Linked DNA regions of Homo sapiens. Changing the gene in region 1 together with any one later gene gives a genetic interaction. Each region holds a gene or a part of one and is shown in the gene's direction. Other genes may lie near its edges. The genes, in order: CIT, SRFBP1, TCOF1, CYP4F12, PDCD7, ACVR1 and AMHR2.

Region 1 (3,500 bases):
GGTTGCCTTCCAGAAGAACTTTGAACTTTTGGAAATGTTTAAATCATGTGCATGAATGATCTGTGTAATTTTAGGTTTGCGATCGAGGAGAGGGATGGGTGTGGAAGACCAGGGGCTCCCCCAGGCAGGGCATGGCTCAAGTGCTTGGTGCCTCCTTAGCAGGCTAAGCAGGTCAAGGAGCCACCTTTCTGCCATTTGGGGCTGATTTTCTGGGTGGCATTCTCCTTCTGATGCCACCTGCAGTTCACCTGCTGGTAAAGAAAGAAGGAAACACCATCCATATGGCTTCTTATCCCTCCCAATTGACCGATGAAACTGTGTATGTGCATGTGTGTGTATCACATGCTTACAGCATCGCAGGTACACACACGGCTTTGGGATTTTCCAGTGAGTTTCACTCCCTGGCTTCCCCAGGCTCTGGAGCGGGTGCTGCCCTGCCAAGCACTCACTGCTAGCTGCTGAAGGGGATAGCCCAGGGGCTGCAGATTCCCATTTGCATCATGCAAGGTGAGCACAGCAACTTCTGGCCTCGGATGGCTAACACTCCTCCTTATTTCACTCCTAGGTCTGGGACCAGTCTTCAGTATAAATCTCAGCCAGAAAAACCAACTCCTCATCTTGATCTGCAGGAAAACACCAAACACACTATGGAACTCTGCTGATGGGGACCCAAGCGCCCACGTGCTCAGCCACCCTCTGGCTCAGCGGGGCCCAGACCCACCTCGGCACGGACACCCCTGTCTCCAGGAGGGGCAGGTGGCTGAGGCTCTTCGGAGCTGTCAGCGCCCGGTGCCTGCCCTGGGCACCTCCCTGCAGTCATCTCTTTGCACTTTGTTACTCTTTCAAAGCATTCACAAACTTTTGTACCTAGCTCTAGCCTGTACCAGTTAGTTCATCAAAGGAAACCAACCGGGATGCTAACTACAACATGGTTAGAATCCTAATTAGCTACTTTAAGATCCTAGGATTGGTTGGTTTTTCTTTTTTTTTTCTCTTTGTTTCTTTCCTTTTTTTTTTTTTTTTTTTAAGACAACAGAATTCTTAATAGATTTGAATAGCGACGTATTTCCTGTTGTAGTCATTTTTAGCTCGACCACATCATCAGGTCTTTGCCACCGAGGCATAGTGTAGAACAGTCCCGGTCAGTTGGCCAACCTCCCGCAGCCAAGTAGGTTCATCCTTGTTCCTGTTCATTCTCATAGATGGCCCTGCTTTCCCCAGGGTGACATCGTAGCCAAATGTTTACTGTTTTCATTGCCTTTTATGGCCTTGACGACTTCCCCTCCCACCAGCTGAGAATGTATGGAGGTCATCGGGGCCTCAGCTCGGAGGCAGTGACTTGGGGCCAAGGGACCTCGAGACGCTTTCCTTCCCCACCCCCCAGCGTCATCTCCCCAGCCTGCTGTTCCCGCTTTCCATATAGCTTTGGCCAGGAAAGCATGCAATAGACTTGCTCGGAGCCCAGCACTCCTGGGTCTCGGGGTCGGGGAGGGGACGGGGGCACCCACTTCCTTGTCTGTGACGGCGTGTTGTTCCCCACTCTGGGATGGGGAAGAGGCCCGTCGGGAGTTCTGCATGGCAGTTCACTGCATGTGCTGCCCCCTTGGGTTGCTCTGCCAATGTATTAATACCATCCCATAGCTCCTGCCAAATCGAGACCCTCTGACGACTTGCCGACTAACTGGCCACCACAAGCTGCAGTCTGTAGCACTGAACAAACAAAAAACAAAACGCTCAAGCCTTACGACCAGAGAAGGATTTCAGCAAACCACCACCTCCCACTCAGTGTCCCCTCCAAACTTCACACTTCCCTGCCTGCAGAGGATGACTCTGTTCACACCCAATCCAGCGCGGTTCTACCCCACGAAACTGTGACTTTCCAAATGAGCCTTTCCCTAGGGCTAGACCTAAGACCAGGAAGTTTGAGAAAGCAGCCGCAGCTCAACTCTTCCAGCTCCGCCAGGGTTGGGAAGTCCTTAGGTGCAGTGCGGCTCCCACTGGGTCTGCGGACCCTCCTATTAGAGTACGAAATTCCTGGCAACTGGTACAGAACCAACCTAGAGGCTTTGCAGTTGGCAAGCTAACTCGCGGCCTTATTTCTGCCTTTAATCTCCCACAAGGCATCTGTTGCTTTGGGTCCTCCACGACTCTTAGGCCCGCCTCAACAACCCAGGCACCTCCTAGGTAGGCTCAAAGGTAGACCCGTTTCCACCGCAGCAGGTGAACATGACCGTGTTTTCAACTGTGTCCACAGTTCAGATCCCTTTCCAGATTGCAACCTGGCCTGCATCCCAGCTCCTTCCTGCTCGTGTCTTAACCTAAGTGCTTTCTTGTTTGAAACGCCTACAAACCTCCATGTGGTAGCTCCTTTGGCAAATGTCCTGCTGTGGCGTTTTATGTGTTGCTTGGAGTCTGTGGGGTCGTACTCCCTCCCCTCCCGTCCCCAGGGCAGATTTGATTGAATGTTTGCTGAAGTTTTGTCTCTTGGTCCACAGTATTTGGAAAGGTCACTGAAAATGGGTCTTTCAGTCTTGGCATTTCATTTAGGATCTCCATGAGAAATGGGCTTCTTGAGCCCTGAAAATGTATATTGTGTGTCTCATCTGTGAACTGCTTTCTGCTATATAGAACTAGCTCAAAAGACTGTACATATTTACAAGAAACTTTATATTCGTAAAAAAAAAAAGAGGAAATTGAATTGGTTTCTACTTTTTTATTGTAAAAGGTGCATTTTTCAACACTTACTTTTGGTTTCAATGGTGGTAGTTGTGGACAGCCATCTTCACTGGAGGGTGGGGAGCTCCGTGTGACCACCAAGATGCCAGCAGGATATACCGTAACACGAAATTGCTGTCAAAAGCTTATTAGCATCAATCAAGATTCTAGGTCTCCAAAAGTACAGGCTTTTTCTTCATTACCTTTTTTATTCAGAACGAGGAAGAGAACACAAGGAATGATTCAAGATCCACCTTGAGAGGAATGAACTTTGTTGTTGAACAATTAGTGAAATAAAGCAATGATCTAAACTAATGTGTGCTTTAGTGCAATGACCTCTTCTTTTTTTGAGAGACTGTGAAAGAAAAACTATCACCAGCGTGTCAGTGTAGGTGTATTATCATGGATGGGACCTTCTTTACGTTGTGGGGAGGGTTTTCCTCTGGAGTGGGATAGAGGAAGCCACGTGGTGGTTAGGGCACACTGCTATCCTGGAATTAAGCGATTGGTGACATTCTCTGCCAAGAGTTTGACTGTGGAAATTTGGTCAATACTTCCAGTGAACCATGAACTGGCTATTAAGGTCATTTTATAGGACTGCAGAGCTGGAAAGCTCTTCAAGCAGTCACACAGGACATTTGGAAAGGATTACTGAAGAATGGATTACCCAGTTCTATAATCAGCTAACCAGGAACAGGTCAGCTCAAGATATCTTTCATCTATTAAAAGGCCAACTACAATTTAATAATGTAGATTTCTTTGTAGAGAAGAATTCAAATCAAAGG
Region 2 (3,500 bases), on another chromosome or scaffold:
CTGGGCTTAAGACCACCCTGATCCACTGTGATTCCACATAATTTAATCTGCAAAGACTTTGTTTCCAAATAAGTTCACATTCTGAGTTTCCAGGTGGATGTGAATTTTGAGGGGACGCGATTCAACCTAGTACACAAGGTAATTAAATAGCAGATGGTCCTGGCACAGGATTTGCACCAGGTGTAATTTAAATAGATTATTCTTTGAGTGACATTACTCACATAAATCCTACAAACAGAATAGCTTGCATACTGCCATCATCTTGTTTTTATTTTGGTATTCGTACATTTATAATACTGGGTTGGAAATGTCTTATATTTGACTGTTCACAATGAAGGGTAAATTTAGGATAAAGACATTTGAAACTGGTTGTTTTACTTTCACACACTAGTGAAATTTATTCACTTGCTTTATTAAATGTGTATTGGGTGCCTACTATTATTACCAGTCACTATTCTAGGCACTGAATCTACAGCAATGAGGCAAACAAAGTCTCTGCTTTGCAGATATGAAAACATCTACACTGCCATGCAGTGGTAAGTGATGTGAAGTAAATAGTGATGGGAAGTGTTGTGCTAGTTGAGATGACATTTAAGCAGAGACCTGAATACAGTGAGATGATCAGCCGTGTATATATTTGGGAGTAGAGTATTCCAGGTAAAGAAGAGATTGCAATGGTATGGGCTAAGCATCAGAAAGCAATAAAGCTTAAAGAAGAACAGATATGGAAATAGCATGATTTGATTACATTTTTAAAAATCACCGTGGCTGTTGTGTGGAAAATTGACTGTTGAGAGAGCAAGTTGCAAAGGAGAGTGACCAGGCATAAGTTTAATTATGTTGGTCCAGGTGAGAGGTGTTGGTGATTTAGTCAAAGGTAGTAAGAATAGAAATGGTGAGAAGCGACTGGTTCTGGATATATTTTACATTTGGAACCACAGGGTGTATTGTGAGTTTTGAGGGAAAGACAAATAGTGGGAAAGAATCCTTAGAGTTTTAGGCCTGAGCAACCAGAACAATGGAAATTACATACAATAAGATGGAAAAGCTACAGGAGAAGCAGATTTGTGAGGAAAAATCAAAGAATTCTGTTTTGACAATGTCAAATAGATGTCAGGTTAGGTGGTTTGATGTATCAGCTTAGAGCTCAGGTTGGAGCTGGAGGTCGAAATTTAGATGTTGTCAGCCTTCATACGGCATTTCAAGTCATTAGCCGGCATTATGATTTTTCCAAATTTATAAATATATTGAATACTGTATATAATGTTCCCATTCAGTCTAGGCCCTGAGAACGTGTCAGTGATAGTAGACATTTAAAATAGAAATATAGAGCGTTAGATAATTTCTAGGTCTCTGTTAAATGGAACTTCAAGTATTACAGTAGTCTCACCCAGTTTAGCACTAATATGTTATTTGATTCTTTGATATTAATTTAGTCTTCTTAATTAGATTGTTCAAGCTCTTTGATAGTAAAAACTATGTTCTTTTTTTGATGTTACACATGGTGCTTATCACAATTCTGAGAATATTAAGTATCGTATCCAAAGAATATTTATTAATGATTAAGTGATAATTTTAGTTGTTCAAAGGCAGTAATATTTTTGTCAGGATGATCTTTGTCTTTAGCATGGATTGATTATACAGATATCTTATCTAAGGAGAATATTAACTAGTTCTATTCTCCAACTCTAATTTTAAAGACTATGATAGATTTTATTTTATTCACTTTCAATAGTGTCATTTTTATTTCATTCCCATACGTTTATTATATTTTTAAATTTGCAGCCAGATTCTACTGCAACTGAAAGAGCAATTGCCAGACTAGCAGTACATCCTCTTCTGAAGAAAAAGATAGATGTGCTAAAAGGTATGAATTAAATGACTTTTAAGCCATGTACTTAATGTATTTGTAGACTTTGGATAATGGCTATTCACTTATTTTAACTCTTGAGGTTCTATTATAAATATAAGTTTCTTTCAAATATTTACCAGTGTGGAAGGTGTCTGAAAATACAGAAAGTGTGATCTCTGAAGAAAAACCAAATCTGTATTGTTTAGTAAATTCTAATATGTGAACGTATAATACGTAATATATATCTTTTTATATATAATATATACAAGATAAAGTTGAATAGTTTTTTTAAAATATTGACATAACTCATTAGTTTTGGTTTCGCCACTTAGGAACATAATTTTATATATGTTTATTATAAAATATATCTATAAAATGAAATTTTTTTGTCACATGATACTGAATTTTATGTCTGAAAGCACAGTTTATAATAATGCATTATTATTATATAAATTAAAGTTGCCATTCCCTTTTATTTGTATTCTGTGATGTTTTTACTGTTCTTCATAACTCCAAGACATGAAGAAAACATTTTCTTTTCATTTTCACAATTTAAAATGAATACGTCTGAGCATATCTTATGTTTGGTTTTTAAGAAGTCGAAAGATTTCTTTGTGAATTCAGACCGAGTATATGTATTTAATATCAATTCCAACTGCCCTCTTAAATCTTTTCAAATAATTTTTTAAAATACTGTCCTAAAACAGTCATGTTTTATATGTTTCAGTGCTAAAATGAGTGATGCACTGTTTCTCTTGCAGCTGCTGTACAAGCCTTTAAAGAAGCAAGACAAAATGTTGCTGAAGTTGAGTCATCAAAGAATGCTTCAGAGGACAATCATTCTGAGAATACTTTGTATTCAAATGATAATGGAAGTAATTTACAGCGTGAAGCAACTGTCATCAGTGAGCAAAAAGTCAAAGAAACCAAAATATTGGCGAAGAAACCAATACATAATTCAAAGGAAAAAATAGCAAAGATGGAACATGGACCTAAAGCAGTGACTATTGCAAATTCTCCATCAAAGCCTTCAGAAAAGGATTCTGTAGTTTCCCTTGAGTCCCAGAAGACACCTGCTGACCCAAAACTGAAAACTCTAAGTCAAACCAAAAAAAACAAAGGATCTGATAGCTCACTCTCTGGTAACAGTGATGGCGGAGAAGAATTTTGTGAAGAGGAGAAGGAATATTTTGATGATAGCACAGAAGAAAGGTTTTACAAGCAGTCTTCCATGTCTGAAGATAGTGATAGCGGTGACGACTTCTTCATTGGGAAAGTCAGACGGACACGAAAGAAGGAAAGTAGTTGTCATTCTTCAGTTAAGGAACAAAAACCACTAGAAAAAGTGTTTCTTAAAGAAGATACAGGTGAAACTCATGGGGATACAAGAAATGACAAAATCAAGCCAAGTACAGAAACCAGAAAGTTAGAATCAGTGTTTTTCCACTCTTTATCTGGATCTAAAAGCTCTAGAAGGTAAGATTCTTTTTCTATTCTGAAATAATCATTAGTTCTTTTTTAAAAAGCTATAAATGTCTACTTGTCCATACATGAAGAGACTATAATTCTAGTTTGTACAACCCATCCTGTTTTTAGACATGGCCCTCTCCAAGGTTGTAGTGGGGTATTAGGTACAGATACACATATG
Region 3 (3,500 bases), on another chromosome or scaffold:
CCTGCAAGTCTGGGCTCAGCCTCAGATCCTCATGCCAGCACCAGGCAGCCAATACCAATAGAATTGTTAGGTGAGATGAAACCTGTTTGCCATTCATAGATGAGAAAAGCTCATCTGGCTCCTTTAGCAGATGTTTGTTTCTTGCAGCCCCAAGACTAGCATCTACCAACTCCTCAGTCCTGGGGGCGGACTTGCCATCAAGCATGAAAGAAAAAGCCAAGGTGAGTGGGACTGCCTTCCAAGCTATTGCCTATGGGATTTAAGGTGCCTGGTAGGGGACAGTCTTACATGTCAGAGAAGGATAGGGTTGTGAGTAATTGCCCCACCTGGATTCAGAGCTCAACCTGTGTCACCAGTTGTGGGATCTTAGTCCCTTCACCTCTCTGGGCCTCAGTTTACTTTTCTATAAAGATAAGGATGATGCCTGCTGCAGTGGGCCACTGGGCACATTCTACACCTGGGGTAGGCGATTTCTTTCCTCTTTCATGCCTGCGTTCACCCGTTCACTCAACAGATCTTGACTAATACCTGTTATGTTCCAGGCACTGTGCTAGGTGTGGAGGCACCGTAGTGATCAAGACATCTGTGGTTCTGAAACTCTAAAAGCATTTTCCAAACTGGAAACTGCTCAAAAAACAAGGTGTCATTTTCTAATAATCCAGAAAGCAGAGTTAGATACATACATGTATAAAGAATTGTGCCTCTGCGATTGCCTGGAGCATTAGCAACAATGTCTCAAAGTAATTATGAAGTAATGATAAGATCAACAACAAACTGCTACTTACCACTTAGTAAATAACTACCATGTCCCAAGAACTGGGATTCTGTTTTCTCAACACCTCTGGTGAGAGGAGGTGCTGTTTTTAACCTCACTTTAAAGATTGGGAAACAGATTGAAGGGGTAGTTTACCCAAACTCACACAGCTAAGAAGTGGTAAGATTGGGTTCAGATGCAAGTGGCCTGTGCTCTTAGTTCACCATGCCATACCAGATGTGTCTGTCACTCTTGTTCTCTGTAGGCAGAGACAGAGAAAGCTGGCAAGACTGGGAATTCCATGCCACACCCTGCCACTGGGAAGACGGTGGCCAACCTTCTTTCTGGGAAGTCTCCCAGGAAGTCAGCAGAGCCCTCAGCAAATACTACGTTGGTCTCAGAAACTGAGGAGGAGGGCAGCGTCCCGGCCTTTGGAGCTGCTGCCAAGCCTGGTAAGAAGTCCCCACCTCTAGGAACCTAGTCCCCAGAACTTGGGCTGGTGAGGCAGGCCTAGGCATTGCTTTAAGTTCTGGGACATTTCTGGAATCAAAAGTTTGTCTCCAGGACAGCCAGGTTCCTGCATCTTAGGACTTTTCTCATCACCTAGACGAGGGAGGGTCAGCTTACAGGGACCTGGCCTCAGGCTGAACAGCCCACCTGGTGGTTGGAGCATTTTCTGCTTTATGACTCCCTGGTGAGTTACAGGGACAACTGGCAGCTCAGAGACTAAACTGAAAGGCCTGATTTGCCTCTGTTTCCTATGTAGAGTAGACATCTGTCTGGCCTGCATCAGTGGATATGATGGTGGATGGAGGTTCTGTAGACTGTCAGGTGCTGGTGCATATTTGTTGGGTCCCCTCACAGCCCTTCCCAGGGCCTCAGAGATGTGTGGGAACATAGGGATGGTGATGGTACCCACCTCAGAAGGGGGCTTCACAGCTCAGTGCATGTGAGGCACACGAGGGGTGAGCGCTCAGCACCTGGCTTTGATGAGCAGCTGGTTTGTGGGGAGGTGCTGGGGAGGGGCAGGTGAGGCTGGAAAGGGAGTCCCTCAGTCCCCTCCGTGTCCGATCCTCAGGGATGGTGTCAGCGGGCCAGGCCGACAGCTCCAGCGAGGACACCTCCAGCTCCAGTGATGAGACAGACGTGGAGGTAATTGCCACCCATCCCTAGGAGTTGCCCTCTCCCAGCCTCTAACCCTTCCAGGAACCTGTCTGGGGCTTCAGACACCAGTGGGCCCAGATGAGTTCAGCAACTGTGGTAGGGTGACCAGGAGCTGGAAAGGCTGCAGCCGGAGAGGGGCAGGGAGAGGAGTCTGGTGCTGCTTGCTGCACTCTGAGTGTGAGATCAGCCCTGGGGGCAGGAGAGGGACACCCTCCTGCCTGTGAGACTAGACAAGCCTTCCTGGGAGAGGTGCCCTGGAGTAGGGCCTCAAAGCACAGTGGGCTTCACTGGGAAGGGATGTGGAGGAGGCAGGGCATTCCAGACAGGAAATGGGGCAAGAACAGGGCCCAGAGGCAACAGTGTGGCTGTCGTGGTCTGGCTAGGGCTGCGGCTGCTGAGAGGGTTCTGGGCCAACTGGTGAATGCCAGGCCTAGACACTTGGCTAGAGTTGGGCAGGACTCTTGGGTTTGTGAACTTTGACCTGGAAAAGGTCTCCACAGGTTACTTTTTATTGTGTACCTACTAAGTGGCAGACCTGGGGAATATAGTGATGAGCAGGACAGGCAGAGTTCCTGCTGCCATGGGGCAAGGGAGCGTCCCTCAGATATTTAATTGGTGATGGCTGCTATGAAGTGGAAATGTAGAGGGCCACGCAGGGCAGGAACCTGACGTTGATGAGTAGGCGTAAGCAGAAGGAATGGCATGTGCAGAGAAGGCGGCAAAGAGAGTTTGGTGCTTTTAAAGAACATTGATCTTTTTTTAAGACAGTCTCACTGTGTCACCCAAGCTGGAGTGCAGTAGCGCGATCTTGGCTAGCTGCAACTTCCACCTCCCGGGTTCAAGCGATTGTCGTGCCTCAGCCTCCCAAGTAGCTGGGATTACAGGTGCACGCCACCACGCCTGGCTAATTTTTGTATTTTTTGTGGAGACAGGGTTTCACCATGTTGGCCAGGCTAGTCTCGAACTCCTGACCTCAAGTGGTCCATGTGCCTTGGCCTCCCAAAGTGCTGGGATTACAGGCATGAGCCGCCACGCCTGGCCAAAACCTTGATCTTTAAATGAGAGGGAGAAACCAGGCACGGTGGCTCGCACCTGTAAGTGCAGCACTCTGGGAGGCCAAGGCAGGAGGATCATTTGAGGCCAGAAGTTTGAACCCAGCCTGAGCAACATAGTGAAACCCTGTCTCTACAAGATGTTATTTTTTAAAAAAACAAATAAATTATGGGGAAAGTGACACAAGATGAAGTCCTAGGTAGACAGGGGCCAGATCTTCTGTCTGACCTTGAGGACCACCATAAGGAATTTGGGTTTTATTCTAGGGGCTGTGAGAAGCCATGCCAGCAAGGAGAGATGGCCTGATTTGCATTTAATAAGATTGCTGGCTGCAGCCTGGGTTGGAGGGCAGTGCAGAATAAAAGCAGTAAGACCATGTAGGAGACTATTGGAGTAATACTGATACTGGCATAAGAGGCTGGGGGCTGGGAGACCAAGGTGTCCACAGTTGGAAAGATGTTTTCAAGGGAAAACCAGCACAAGTCAGGGATGAACTGATCTGGTGCCCAGGGAACTTCTCACTTTACTG
Region 4 (3,500 bases), on another chromosome or scaffold:
TAATAACTATGGTAGTGAAAGCAGAGTCTGGCTGTGGAAAATATGGGAAAATGGTAATGGCTTCCATTTTAACCCAAAGGCAATGGGAAGCCATAACAAGTGGTTGAGCAGGGGAGGGGCAGGTCATATCTGGGCACCAGAAAGATCTTTTCAGAGCTACTGTGGAGAGAGGACCAGCTGTAGAATGAAGTCCCAGTGAAGACATTCTGGGACCTGAGCCAGGGCAGGGGCTGGGGATGGAGAGGAGGCAATGGACTGGACATGTGTTTTGGAGGCCGTGTCCTCCCGTCCAAGCCTTTGCTCAGCACAGCAGTCCTAAAAGGTGGCAACACTTTTTATGCTTTTAAAAACCAAGATATCAAGTAATACTGTGCACTTTGTAAACAAAAAAAAGTGTCTAAAACATTTATAAAAATGAGCTTTCCTCATGCCTGTAATCCCAGCACTTTGGAAGGCCGAGGCGGGCGGATCACGAGGTCAGGAGATCGAGACCATCCTGGCTAACACGGTGAAACCCCGTCTCTACTAAAAGTATAAAAAATTAGCCGGGCGTGATGGCAGGTGCCTGTAGTCCCAGCTACTCTGGAGGCTGAGGCAGGAGAATGGCGTGAACCCGGGTGGCGGAGCTTGCAGTGAGCTGAGATGGCACCATTGCACTCCAGCCTGGGCAACAGAGTGAGACTCTTTCTCAAAAAAAAAAAAAAAAGAGCTTCCTTCTTAACTGTCACCCTAGTAGTTTCTACCATCAATGGTTTTGTGTGTCCCTCCAGAAGATGGCTATCTTGATGCCCACTTTATAAGAACACAGACTTCTTCTATACAAATAAGAGTGTATAAAATAGACACAGTACTTTTTCCCAAGATGGTGGGTTGGAGGCAATGTCAGTGTGCCTCTCCCATGTGGAAGGACAGAATAGTGTGTAGAGATTCACAGTGTAAGCTTTCTTTTCCCAAGAAACAACACAGGGACTTAACAGGAAAACCAGAAGAATCCACAAACCCTTCAAAAGAAGCTACAGGCTGCATTCTACTCTGTGAGACAGGTGAAAAACTGTGAATCCTCAGAGTAAGAGGGGGAGAGACTGCTTCCTAGGTACACATCTTCACTGGGGAATCTGAAAATCCAGACCACAGGAGAAGGCCTTAACTCTATCCAGGGCTTGAACTGATTTAGGGAGTGGTAAGAAATATAAAAGTAGAAGCAGCAGCAGGAAGTCCCTTGCAGGCATTCACAATCTCCAGCATGGACTGAGGGAAGCCATTCCTTATTGTATCTCACAGGGGACCTTGGGGAAGTCAGACAACTAGCTCAGGTGAGGTCACAGGTTGAACGAAATGCCCAAATGAATTTCTTGATATAACCTCGAGTGGGGATGAACTCCCTTGACCAGAACCCGGGAGGCAAGCAGGAAGTGTGCTGCAGACAGGAGTTCAGAAGCTGGGTGCCTGGCCTTGGACAGGGACAAAAAAGGACATGGCCTGAAAGCATTGCTATTTCTGTGGGAAAAGCTTATGGCCTGGGGCAGGGCTGAGTTCTGTGCACAGACTGCCTGGATCTAAATCCAGTGCTATGAGTGGAACACTGCATGTGTGAGACCCACCTTGTGCCAACTGCATGGGAGCTAGATGAGGCTTACTGCCACCTGCTACTCTCCACTCCCTTGTCAAACTCTTCTGTGAGGCAGAGGCAGTTATACTCACCTCTGGATCATTACCCCAGTGACCTAAGAACCACCCTCTGACTCTCACAGGGCAAAACAAACAAACAAAAAAACAGTTGCAAAAAAAAAAAAATACCTAGGAATATACTTAACCAAGGAGGTTAAAGCTCTCTACAAGGAGAACTACAAAACAGTGCTGGACAAAACCATAGATGACACAAACCAATGAAAACACATCCCATGTTCATGGATTGGAAGAATCAATATTGTGAAAATGATCATAGTGCAAAGCAATCTACAGATTTAACGCAATGCCTATGAAAATACCTTCATCATTTTTCACACAACTGGGAAAAGCAATTCTAAAATTCATATGGAACCAAAACAGAGCCTGTGTAGTCAAAGCAATACCAAGCAAAAAGAAAAAATTTGGAGGCATCACATTACCGGACTTCAAATTACATTACAAGGCTACAATTACCAAAACAGCATGGTACTGGTATAAAAGTAGGCATTTAGATGAATGGAACAGAAAGGAGGACCCAGAAATAAAGCCAAATACTTACAGCCAACTGATCTTTGACAAAGCATACAAAAACATAAATTGGGGAAAGACACCCTATTCAATAAATGGTGCTGGGAAAACTGGACAGTCACATGTAGAAAAATGAAACTGCATCCCCATCTCTCACCTTGTACAAAAATCAAAGGCTTAAATCTAAGACAGAAACCATAACAATTTTATAAGATAACCTTGGAAAAACTCTTTTGGACATTGGCCTAGGCAAAGAATTCGTGACCAAGACCACAAAAGCAAATGCAACAAAACCAAAAATAAATCAGTGGAACTTAATTAAACTAAAAAGCTTCTGCACAACAAAATAATAATAATAATAATAGCCGACTTAACAGACAACCTACAGAGTGGGGGAAAATATTTGCAAACTATGCATCTGACAAAGGGCTAGTATCCAGAATCTACAAGGAACTCAAACAACTCAGCAAGGAAAAAAAACAAACAAACAATTAGTTCCATCAAAAAGTGGGCAAAGGGCATGAACAGATAATTCTCAAAAGAAGATACACAAACAGCCACGAAACATATGAAAAAATGCTCAACATCACTAATCATCAGGGATATGCAAATTAAAACCACAATGAGATACCATCTTGTTTCTACAAGAATGGCCATAATTAAAAAGTCAAAAAACAATAGATGTATGTTGTGGATGTATTGAAAAGTGAATGCTCATACACTGCTATGAAAATTAACATAACCTCTGTGGAAAACGATAAGGATATTCCTTAGCGAACTAAAAGTAAATCTACCATTCCATCCAGCAATCTCACTACTAGGTATCCACCCAAAGGAAAAGTGATTATATGAAAAAGACACATGCACATGCATGCTTATAGTAGCACAATTCACAATTGTAAAGGTACGGAACCAACCTAACTGCCCATTGACCAATGAGTGGATAAAGAAAATGTGGCATATATACACAATGGAATACTACTCAGTCATAAAAAGGAATGAAATAATGTCTTTTGCCGCAACTTGGATGGAGCTGGAGGCCATTATTCTAAGTGAAGTAACTCAAGAATAGAAAACCAAATACCATATATTTTCACCTATAAGTGGGAGCTAAGCTGTGAGGACACAAATACATACAGAGTGATATAATGAGCTTTGGAGACTCGGAGAGCAAGGTTGGGAGCCGGGTAAGGGAGAAAAGACTGCATATTGGGGACAGTATACACTGCATGGGTGATGGGTGCACTAAAACCTCAGAATTCACCACTATAGAAATCATCCATGTAACCAAACCACTTATATCC
Region 5 (3,465 bases), on another chromosome or scaffold:
CAACTTAGTAGAAGATAAATTTGAGTTGTAGTGTTTCTGTAGTTGAGAATGAGTGAATGGAAACCTGTAGAAGCAAAGCAGTTAGGAGAAAATCATCTAGAGAAATGTTAGCCTTGAGAGTGAGTTCCACAACCACTTAGCTGTAGTGGTTGAAGGAGGAAAGAATCCTACCTCCAAATTACAACTTTACAAGAAACAGAACTACTAACCTTGAGAAACCATTATTTATGCCATTTATCAGCCCAAACTGAAAATTTAGTGCTCAAAGCTGGCACTATTGTATAACACAAGTTGCAGCATAAATTGTTAAAACCCTGTTGAAGGGCCGGGCATGGTGGCTCATGCCTGTAATCCCAGCACTTTGGGAGGCCGAGGTGGGAGGATCATGAGGTCAGGAGATCAAGATTATCCTGGCCAACATGGTGAAACACTGTCTCTACTAAAAATACAGAAATTAGCTGGGAATGGTGGCACATGCCTGTAATCCCAGCTACTCGGGAGGCTGAGGCAGGAGAATCGCTTGAACCCAGGAATCAGAGGTTACAGTGAGGTGAGATCGCGCCACTGTACTCCAGCCTGGTGACAGAGCGAGACTCCGTCTCAAAACAAAACAAACAAAAAAACCTTGTTGAAAATCATTCATTCATTGAAGAAGTATCTATTAATTACCTTCTCTGTGTCAAGTGTTTGGTAACTGAGCAAATATATAGCTTTTTTAGGAAGCAGTTTAGAACACAGTTTGTTAGTCTTGAAAGTATTCACAAACATTTCCATTTTTGAGAATTTTTCTTTCTTTTTTTTTTTTTGAGACAGAGTTTCACTCTTGTTGCCCAGGCTGGAGTGCCGTGGTGCGATCTCGGCTCACTGTAAGCCCCGCTTTCTGGTTTCAAGCGATTCTCCTGCCTCAGCCTCCTGAGTAGCTGGGATTACAGGCACCTGCCACCACGCCCGGCTAATTTTTGTATTTTTAGTAGAGACAGGGTTTCACCATGTTGGCCAGGCTGGTCTCAAACTCCTGACCTCGTGATCCACCCGTCTCAGCCTCCCAAAGTGTTGGAATTACAGGAGCCACCCTGCCCGGCCAAGAATTTTTCTGATAGAAATCCCTAGGAAGGAAAAAAGTAACATGCCCAAGAATATTCATTGTATCACAATATAATAACAGGACATTTGGAATAGCTTAGGTGTCCAGGAGTAGGGAACTTGATAAGTATATTCTAGTGTATTGATTTGATGAAATAGGATACAGCCATTAAATAATTATGAAGATTGGAGAAGAACGTACAGAATCAACAGGGAGAAGTGGAAATTACATACATGTAACGTTGAACTATATGAAGTTGCTAATACATGGACAAAAAGACCTGAAGAGAATGTGAGAAAGTATAAAATGGTTGATTATGGTAATGGGATTAGGATTTTTTTTTTCTTTCTTGTATCTGGTATTCTTTTTTTTTAAATTTATTTTTTTGGAGATAAGAGTCTTGCTCTGTCACCCAAGCCAGAGTGCAGTGGCATGATCTTGGCTCACTGCAGCCTCCACCTCCTGGGTTCAAGCGATTCTCCTGGCTTAGCCTCCTGAGTAGTTGGAACTACAGGCGCACGCCACCATGCTCGGCTAATTTTTTGTATTTTTAGTGGATATGGGGTTTCACCATGTTGGCCAGGCTGGTCTTGAACTCCTGAGCTCAGGCAACCTGCCTGCCTCAGTCTCCCAAAGTGCTAGGTTTACAGGTGTGAGCCACCACGCTTGGCCCTGTATCTGGTATTGCTAAAATGCTTGGGTAACATATTTTCCTTTAAAATCTTCAAGGACTGACAGGATAGATCACATCCACATCACTCTACATTGATTCACCTGGAAGCTTTTGTATTACAGGGCCATTATGGTAGTGAGTGCACAATTGCAGTCCACTCAAATATTCATTAAGTTAAAATCTTTTTTTCTTATGAAACTTTATGAAACATTTCACACATGCACAAAAATAGAATACATAAACACTCATCATCAACTATGATACCATTGTCACACCAAAAAAATTAGCAGTAATTCTTTGATATCACCTAATAACCTGACTATTTTCTCCACTGTGGCTTTAGATATGTTGGCTATACTGTTAGCTGACCTCATAGTTAAATCAGGATAATAACCATCCCAGTTTTACTGGGACTTGGGGCTTTCAGTGCTACATGCAGGCAAACCAAAACAGTTGGTCAGCCTACTGTCAGCAGCAGACTGCAAGGTCAGTGTGGTTGTTTTAAGTGTATCTTCCTCACCATCCAAGTGTGCACTCCCAAAATTCACACTCAGTCAGAGGAAGAATTGTTTATTAATTAGATCTGGGAGTTGATGCTAAGGGAATTTCACAAACAATGAAGTTAAGACAAGTTCCTCCCTTTAGTGAGCTCACTGTTTCAAGTGGAGGATCAAGACCATTAGAAATAAACAAAGTCGAAGCCAGGTATGGTGGTTCACGCCTGTAATCCCAGCACTTTGGGAGGCCAAGGTGGGTGGATCACCTGAGGTCAGGAGTTCGAGACCAGCCTGACCAACATGGAGAAACATCTACTAAAAATACAAAAATTAGCCGGGTGTGTTGGTGCATGCCTGTAATCCCAGCTACTCAGGAGGCTGAGTCAGGAGAATCGCTTGAACCCGGGATGCGTGGAGTTTGCAGTGAGCTGAGATCGCACCATTGCCCTCCAGCCTGGGCAACAAGAATGAAACTCCATCTCAAAAAAAAAAAAAAAAAAAGAAAGAAAGTCAGAGGTTAAGTGGTGTGGATGATCCAGAGGGAGGAGTTGAGAAAGTCAGGGTAGGGTCAGAGTAATTGAATACTCAGAAACATCAAATTGAGCCTTAAAAGATTGGGTAAAATTTCTAAATTTTAACCGATACATACTATAGCTAGGACTTTTAAACTTCCTCATTATAACACAAATTTTGGGATAAGAAAACGTGTGTAAAAGGCCATTTGGGCTGGATGCAGTGGCTCACTTTGGGAAGCCAAGCTGGTAGGATTGCTTGAGGCCAGGAGTTAGAGATTAGCCTGGGCAACATAGCAAGACCTCATACAAAAAAGTTTTGGTCTTTTTTTTTGGAGACGGAGTCTCACTCTGTTGCCCAGGCTGGAGTGCAGTGGTGTGATCTCCGCTCACTGCAAGCTCCACCTCCCAGGTTCACGCCATTCTCCTGTCTCAGCCTCCCGAGTAGCTGGGACTACAGGTACCTGCCACCATGCCTGGCTAATTTTTTGTATTTTTAGTAGAGACGGGGTTTCACCGTGTTAGCCAGGATGTTCTCAATCTCCTGACCTCGTGAGACCTCATACAAAAAATTTACAAATTAGTAGGTAGGGCCAGGCACAGTGGCTCATGCCTGTAATCCCAGCACTTAGGGAGGCCAAGGCAGGGGGATTGCTTGACCAGGAGTTTAAGACCAGCTTGAGAAACACAGGGATACCC
Region 6 (3,500 bases), on another chromosome or scaffold:
AGCAGAAACATTTTCTTTATTAAGAATAACTAATGTCCAAGAACACATTTTGATGCATATTGTGGCCAGCTAAGGGCTCCAAGAGAAGCAGCATCGAGGGGAAAAGCAGACTGGGGAGCAGGGAAGGAGTGGGAGACTCAGGGCTGGCCATGGGAATAGGCTTAGAGGAAGAGAGAGAAAGAAGTAGAGGGTGAAGGTGCTAAAATATTATTCAGTTTGCTTTGCATATGTCCCATAGGTGAAAATGTGAAATTATTTTTTCTCTGAGTAGAAATCAGTTTGTTTGGGGACAGTATGGCATAGTCAGTAAGAGTCTGGGTTCTAGAATCAGACCTACAGGAACCTAATATCAATTATGCGATCTACTTACTTCATGTGGTTTTTGGAGGATTGCATATAAAGTTCCAGGCATGTAGTACTCAATAATTATTAGCTGCCTCTGTTGTGGTTGCCGATGATGATGATGATCAAATAGGGGACCTTTCTTGGCTCACAGAGCCTTCCTATGCAAGGTATCAGGACAGCTAGCACTAAATTCAGAGTTGATAGCAACTTAAATAGCTGTGTGATCCTTGGCATCTCCCAGCACCAACTTTATTATCTGTAAAATGAGCATAATGATGTCTTTCTTACCAGCTTGTTGGGAAAAATCTCATGAGAAAATATATGTGAAAGTGACATAAATTTTATATAAAGTACTATGCAAGTATAAAGCATTTTAATGTATTTTCTCTTACATTTTCATAAGTCATTTAATTCTTCCTCAAGCCATATCCGTCTTAAAAAATTTTTTTTCTCACCTCTTTTTAAGTCCCAAACTTCACTGTCTACCAGCGTGGTTCATATATGTGAGAATAATCCTAGAAAGGCACCTCTGTAGCAGAAAAGGCAAGCACACGTCACAATTTATTTCATAAGATAGGAAGTGCCCCTAACTTCCAGACAGTCTTCTGCATGCTCAAAAGTTCCCTCCAGATGTCTAGAAAAATCTCTTCCGGGCTGATCGCGATGTCTCACGCTTGTAATCCCAGCACTTTGGGAGGCCAAGGCAGGTGGATCACCTGAAGGTCAGGAGTTTGAGACCAGCGTGGCCAACGTGGGGAAACCTCATCTCTACTTAAAATATAAAAAATTAGCCCGGCGTGATGGTGGGCCCCTGTAATCCCAGCTACTCGGGAGGCTGAGGCAGGAGAATCACTTGAACCCAGGAGGCGGTGGTTGCAGTGAACCGAGATCGCGCCATTGCACTCCAGCCTGGGCAACAAGAGGGAAACTTCGTCTCAAAAAAAAAGAAAAAGAAAAAGAAAAATCTTCTCCAACCTCTTCATCCACATTTGTCAGTCACTCACTTTACTTCAAGACCAGTTGAGTTGCCACTTCCTAATGGAAGCCTATTGTAACACCTAGTCTGAATTACTATAATTTCCTGCTCTGGGCTCATGTTGCCCTTTGAAGATATATATTATAGTACTTTTCGTATTTTATTGTAGTGTTTTCGTTTTTACATCTGTCTTCTTTAGCCAGCAAACACTATCATCTTGGTTTTTCTGTGTGTGACTGACAGATAGCATCATAAATACTCATATATTTGGTTGGTTTCTTTTTTTATTTCGTGAATCAGTCAATCATTTAATGTAAACTTGCCCCCTTTATTTTACATCTGAGCAGATATAGGCTAAGGAGCCTAACTGAGTTGCCCAGTATTAGACAAGTAAATCACAGGCAGAGTCAGGACTAGAATACAGTACTCAGGTTTTAGATTTGATGTTCTTTTAGGATGGTTGATGAATGGTCTGTTCCTAAAATATCAACATGCTGAAGGGCTTGGCACTATCATTATGGGTGAGCACAAAGATATTATTGCTATCTGAAACTTAAGGAATGTAAAATATCTTTTAAAGTATTACTTATAATGAAATGAATATGAAATTTTCCTATTAGCAGTGCCCTTTTAAGGAATAAATGCTATTATTTTTCTCTGTTGATGCTTCTGTAAACCTCCTCTTAGGGCAATTGGTCAGTTTAATTACTTTTTGTTACAGATGACATTTACTGTGTAGGTCGCTATTTCTAAATACTTTAAGTTATAATGTGGAATCCTCATGTATATTAATTTTTTTCTTGCTCTCTCCAGGTTTCATTGCTTCAGACATGACATCAAGACACTCCAGTACCCAGCTGTGGTTAATTACACATTATCATGAAATGGGATCGTTGTACGACTATCTTCAGCTTACTACTCTGGATACAGTTAGCTGCCTTCGAATAGTGCTGTCCATAGCTAGTGGTCTTGCACATTTGCACATAGAGATATTTGGGACCCAAGGGAAACCAGCCATTGCCCATCGAGATTTAAAGAGCAAAAATATTCTGGTTAAGAAGAATGGACAGTGTTGCATAGCAGATTTGGGTAAATTTCTAAAAATATTTTTTTCCTCACCAGTTTTATTTTTGTTTCAATGGTTAGGTGAGTTGCATCTCTCCCCCACAACATGTTATGCAAAATTTCAAACATGCAGAAAAGTTGAACATTTACAATGAACACCTTTATACCCACCACATAGATTCTCACATTAACATTTTACTATCCTTAAGCATTATTATGTATTTATTCATCTATTCATCTCCCCATCCATCAGTCCATATCAACCTTTGATAGAGTTGAAAGTAAATTGCAGACAAAGGAATTCTTTCTTCTGATGATTTCAGCATGTACACTAGTATATCATTGACAAGAATGCATTATTTGCTTTTTCTTTTTTTCAGGTAAAATTTATATACTGTGAGATATACAAATCTTAAGAGTTTTGACAAATGTTGTAAAACCCAAATCCCTGTCGAGATACAGAGTTTCCCATTACTCTTGACAGTTACCTCAGGCTCATTCAGTCAGTCCCTGCCACACCCCACCTCAGAAGTAACCAGTACTGTTGCATTTTGGTTTCACTAACCTTCACATAAAGTAGGTGCACAATAAATACTCTATAGAATTAGTTTATCTTAAAAGTGGTCTCTAAAATCATTCTGTAACCAAGGCAAAAGAATCAAGTTAAGAAATAGGAAAATAATCCCCGAACTGATTCACTCTTTTCCCTGTTAGGATAGCTCATTCTTATGGTGTTAGAGTAGTACTCAGTGTAGCTTTAGTTGCATTATAAATAAGAGTATTTTCATTTATAGTGGCATTTTATATAAAACCATGTTCTTCCTGGATTCCTAGAATATTGGCTAAATAATTGTGCTAATGAGAATTCAGGGCCCTCTACTTGATTAAACATGGTTTATATGATATTTATATTATTGCAATTATTGTTAGCCTGATAAAGGTTTAGACAAAAATAGCTTTAGTTATGTAAATAACAAAGTTTATTTTTGTTTGTTTTTAAACATAAGGGATTTGACATGTTAGGAAAATTTATTTCCTTTGAATCCCTTTAAAGTCTTTGCTTTTACATTGAGAAATTACAATGTTTCCCAAGTAGGAGACGAAAGATTTTAGG
Region 7 (4,058 bases), about 66 Mb from region 1:
GATCACGAGGTCACGAGATCGAGACTATCCTGGCCAACATGGTGAAACCCTGTCTCTACTAAAAATACAAAAATTAGCTGGACATGGTGGTGCGTGCCTGTAATCCCAGCTACTCGGGAGGCTGAGGCAGGAGAATCGCTTGAACCAGGGAGTCAGAGGTTGCAGTGAGCCAAGATGGCACCACTGCACTCTAGCCTGGTGACAGAGCGACACTCGGTCTCAAAAAATAAATAAATAAAATAATAATAATAAATATTTCAGGGGAGAATTAGATGAGATGATTGTAAAATGCATAGCCCTAGCTGTGCCCCAGCACATAGTAGGTGCTTGATAAGAAATTTGTTACCTCCTTAATAATGGGTATTTGTTCAGCCTGTGAACCAATGTGTTTTTTTTTTTTAAGTAAAATCCACGGCTAGGCATGGTGGCTCACGCCTATAATCCCAGCACTTTGGGAGGCCGAGGCGGGCAAATCACCTGAGGTAAGGAGTTCGAGACTAGCCTGGCTGACATGGTGAAACCCCGTCTCTACTAAAAATACAAAAATTAGCCAGGTGTGGTGGCAGGCGCCTGTAATCCCAGCTACTCAGGAGGCTGAGGCAGGAGAATAGCTTGAACCCAGGAGGCGGAGGTTGCAGTGAGCTGCGATCGTGCCACTGCACTCCAGCCTGGGGGAGAAGAGCGAGACTCCGTCTCAAAAAAAAAAAAAAAAAAATCCACATAGCAAAATTTACCATTGTTACTGTTTTCAATGTGTTTTTTAAAAATTCAGGTAAGTTTTGTATACTTTCTGATTCTTAAGTTGGAAAACAAGGTAACCTCTAATATGGGCTGTGAGGCCTTCCTCTGCCCAAGCAGTTGCAGATATGAACCCTGAATATAAAGAGATCTTAGGCTAGAAAGGATCTTGGGCAGAGCTGAATGGCTCTAAGCATTTGACCTCACATTGGTTTCCTCCTGAGAAGAGTCAACAGAGTCCAGCATCTTCTTCCAAGGTCAGGGAAGGGCAAAGATTTGAAATTAGGCATCACTGGGTTCTCAGCTGGGCCTCCAAGTTCCCCTCCTCTCACTATGCAGAGCAAAGAGGAGGTTGCAGAAGAGAAGAGGATATGAGATTGGTTCTCTGCTCCTCCCTTTCTTTCCCTGCTTTCCCCACACCCACCCTCTCCCCCACAGCAGCCTTCTCCCCCACAGAGGCTGGGATAGGATGAGGGGGGCGGAGTTGGGGACTGAGGGATCAGAAGCCCCAGGATGCCCTGTATCTGAAGAAAGATTTGGCCAGGGGCAGCTGTGCTGGCTTATGCTCTTCTCCTTCTGCTGCTGCCATCCTCCAGCAAGATGCTAGGGTCTTTGGGGCTTTGGGCATTACTTCCCACAGCTGTGGAAGGTAAGTGTCTACAGGGAGGGGAAGGGTCTCTCCATCCATCCAGCAAGGGAAAGGGGCGCTTGAAGCAAGAGCCACCCCTTTGGAAGAGTGGTGAGTGGGCTGGGTGAGTAAGGGTGAAGGATAGAGCCATGTGTCCCCATGGCAGGGCTCAGGTTCCAGGCCTCTGCTGACCCTGCTTCCTCCTGTGGCTTTACCATACTGACGCTGGGATGTGGAACATGTTTTGTCTATTCTTTTGGCCAGTTTTTTGCCTCTGCATTCACTCCCACCTTGAATCTTTTCCTTTCCCCACCCTGGGCCTCAGCACCCCCAAACAGGCGAACCTGTGTGTTCTTTGAGGCCCCTGGAGTGCGGGGAAGCACAAAGACACTGGGAGAGCTGCTAGATACAGGCACAGAGCTCCCCAGAGCTATCCGCTGCCTCTACAGCCGCTGCTGCTTTGGGATCTGGAACCTGACCCAAGACCGGGCACAGGTGGAAATGCAAGGTGAATGGCAAAGTATATGGCAGGTGATGGCTAGGGTGGGAGACAGACACATCCTGGGGTGTGGGTGGCAACCAAGGGGGAAGGGGAGAAATAGAACATCTGGTGGGAAAGAAAAGCCCATGAGAGCTGGAAGGGACGCCTCTGATAGAGAAGGGATTTACCCTCTGTTTCCACACCCCATTGTGCTTTCTTCCTTGCCCCCCCTTTCTCTCCTCTTCCCCTAATCCCATCCCATCAGGATGCCGAGACAGTGATGAGCCAGGCTGTGAGTCCCTCCACTGTGACCCAAGTCCCCGAGCCCACCCCAGCCCTGGCTCCACTCTCTTCACCTGCTCCTGTGGCACTGACTTCTGCAATGCCAATTACAGCCATCTGCCTCCTCCAGGGAGCCCTGGGACTCCTGGCTCCCAGGGTCCCCAGGCTGCCCCAGGTAGCCACCCAAGGGTACTGAAGCCTGATGGGGGCTGGGGCCCAGGTTAGGATGAGAGGTGGAACCAGGGCCAGTTCTCACCCTACTCCCGCCCCACGCTTTCCTCCTCCTGGCCTTGGGAAGTTGGTTGCCCTGGTGACTGGGAGATAAGGGGTCTTGTGACCAGGGTGGGGGTGGGTTGAGACGCAAGCTCTCAGGAGGGGAAGAGCAGAGAGCAGGTTTGGGTCAGTGCTCTCCAGCCTGCATTCTTGCCTTGATGTCCAGGTGAGTCCATCTGGATGGCACTGGTGCTGCTGGGGCTGTTCCTCCTCCTCCTGCTGCTGCTGGGCAGCATCATCTTGGGTACTAATCCACCCCATCCCTCCCTTGTGACCCCAAGACATTGCCCCAAAAGCTCTGACCCCTCTCCAGGCACCCCTGACCCCATGGTCTTGGGATCTCTATAGCCTGATTCCCGGACTCCCATGACCTCTCACAAAGCTCCCTTTCCACGAAGTCCCTTTTCCTGTCCCTATGCATTTGCACCCTGACCCTAAGGCTCTTGTCTGTTCCAGCCCTGCTACAGCGAAAGAACTACAGAGTGCGAGGTGAGCCAGTGCCAGAGCCAAGGCCAGACTCAGGCAGGGACTGGAGTGTGGAGCTGCAGGAGCTGCCTGAGCTGTGTTTCTCCCAGGTGCCCCAGGGAGGGAGAGAAGGGCTCCTCTGGGCACTCCTGGAGGTTGTGCTGGGGAGGAATCCTGGCCCTGTTATAGCTCAGAGGCCCACACTCAGCACAGTGTCCCCAGCAGGTAATCCGGGAAGGAGGTCATGCAGTGGTTTGGGCCGGGCAGCTGCAAGGAAAACTGGTTGCCATCAAGGCCTTCCCACCGAGGTCTGTGGCTCAGTTCCAAGCTGAGAGAGCATTGTACGAACTTCCAGGCCTACAGCACGACCACATTGTCCGATTTATCACTGCCAGCCGGGGGGGTCCTGGCCGCCTGCTCTCTGGGCCCCTGCTGGTACTGGAACTGCATCCCAAGGTGAGCACCAAGGAGTGTATATGTGTGTGTGTGTGCCTGTGTGTATGTATAGAGGTGGGGGCTACATGGCAGCTGGGCCCTGTTGATTGCTTCTGCTTTCGATTTTCTCTTTTCTAAAACATTAAAAATGGCCAGGCGAGGTGGCCCACACCTGTAATCCCAGGACTTTGGGAGGCCAAGGTGGGTGGATCGCTTAAGCCCAGGAGCTCAAGACCAGCCTAGGCAATATGAGGAAACCCCATCACTGCAAAATTACAAAAATTAGCTCAGCATGGCAGTGCACACCTGTAGTCCCAGCTACTCAGGAGGCTGAGGTGGAAAGATCGCTTGAGCTTAGGAGGTTGAGGCTGCAGTGAGCCGTGAGCATCCCACTGCACTCCAGCCTGGGAGACAGAGCGAGACCATGTGAAAAAATAGTAACAGGCTGGGCACGGTGGCAGACGCCTGTAATCCCAGCACTTTGGGAGGCCAAGGTGTGAGGATCACTTGAACCCAGGAATTCAAGAACAGCCTGGGCAACACCGTGAAACCCCACCTCTACAAAAAACAAAAAATTGGCTGGGTGTGATGGCACATGCCTGTGGTCCCAGCTACTTGGGAGGCTGAAGTGGAAGGAGCACCTGAGCCTGGGGAGGTCAAGGCTGGCAGTGAGCCAAGATTGTGCCACTGCACTCCAGCCTAGGTGACAGAGTAAGACCCTGTCTCAAAATAATAATTTTTATTTATCTTTTTTAT

Evidence for each region.
Region 2: changes in CIT (region 1) and SRFBP1 together harm fitness more than expected from each alone (negative genetic interaction), as found in Homo sapiens cells (one large-scale study listed by BioGRID).
Region 3: changes in CIT (region 1) and TCOF1 together harm fitness more than expected from each alone (negative genetic interaction), as found in Homo sapiens cells (one large-scale study listed by BioGRID).
Region 4: changes in CIT (region 1) and CYP4F12 together harm fitness more than expected from each alone (negative genetic interaction), as found in Homo sapiens cells (one large-scale study listed by BioGRID).
Region 5: changes in CIT (region 1) and PDCD7 together harm fitness less than expected from each alone (positive genetic interaction), as found in Homo sapiens cells (one large-scale study listed by BioGRID).
Region 6: changes in CIT (region 1) and ACVR1 together harm fitness more than expected from each alone (negative genetic interaction), as found in Homo sapiens cells (one large-scale study listed by BioGRID).
Region 7: changes in CIT (region 1) and AMHR2 together harm fitness more than expected from each alone (negative genetic interaction), as found in Homo sapiens cells (one large-scale study listed by BioGRID).

Annotation. Positions count from the first base shown.
Region 1 is NC_000012.12:119,685,321-119,688,820, reverse strand, and holds the end of CIT (citron Rho-interacting kinase), read left to right. Parts: intron 1-565; coding exon 566-589; 3' UTR 590-3,030; downstream 3,031-3,500. UniProt on the Homo sapiens protein: Plays a role in cytokinesis. Required for KIF14 localization to the central spindle and midbody. Putative RHO/RAC effector that binds to the GTP-bound forms of RHO and RAC1. It probably binds p21 with a tighter specificity in vivo.
Region 2 is NC_000005.10:122,017,475-122,020,974, forward strand, and holds part of SRFBP1 (serum response factor-binding protein 1), read left to right. Parts: intron 1-1,785; coding exon 1,786-1,867; intron 1,868-2,613; coding exon 2,614-3,328; intron 3,329-3,500. UniProt on the Homo sapiens protein: May be involved in regulating transcriptional activation of cardiac genes during the aging process. May play a role in biosynthesis and/or processing of SLC2A4 in adipose cells.
Region 3 is NC_000005.10:150,367,697-150,371,196, forward strand, and holds part of TCOF1 (treacle protein), read left to right. Parts: intron 1-147; coding exon 148-221; intron 222-1,019; coding exon 1,020-1,206; intron 1,207-1,832; coding exon 1,833-1,906; intron 1,907-3,500.
Region 4 is NC_000019.10:15,686,587-15,690,086, forward strand, and holds part of CYP4F12 (cytochrome P450 4F12), read left to right. Parts: intron 1-3,500. UniProt on the Homo sapiens protein: A cytochrome P450 monooxygenase involved in the metabolism of endogenous polyunsaturated fatty acids (PUFAs).
Region 5 is NC_000015.10:65,120,344-65,123,808, reverse strand, and holds part of PDCD7 (programmed cell death protein 7), read left to right. Parts: intron 1-3,465. UniProt on the Homo sapiens protein: Promotes apoptosis when overexpressed.
Region 6 is NC_000002.12:157,764,831-157,768,330, reverse strand, and holds part of ACVR1 (activin receptor type-1 precursor), read left to right. Parts: intron 1-2,134; coding exon 2,135-2,410; intron 2,411-3,500. UniProt on the Homo sapiens protein: Bone morphogenetic protein (BMP) type I receptor that is involved in a wide variety of biological processes, including bone, heart, cartilage, nervous, and reproductive system development and regulation.
Region 7 is NC_000012.12:53,422,597-53,426,654, forward strand, and holds the start of AMHR2 (anti-Muellerian hormone type-2 receptor isoform 1 precursor), read left to right. Parts: upstream 1-1,258; 5' UTR 1,259-1,338; coding exon 1,339-1,387; intron 1,388-1,691; coding exon 1,692-1,874; intron 1,875-2,112; coding exon 2,113-2,304; intron 2,305-2,489; exon of another isoform or gene 2,490-2,560; coding exon of another isoform or gene 2,561-2,568; coding exon 2,569-2,646; intron 2,647-2,858; coding exon 2,859-2,977; intron 2,978-3,089; coding exon of another isoform or gene 3,090-3,092; coding exon 3,093-3,323; intron 3,324-4,058. UniProt on the Homo sapiens protein: On ligand binding, forms a receptor complex consisting of two type II and two type I transmembrane serine/threonine kinases.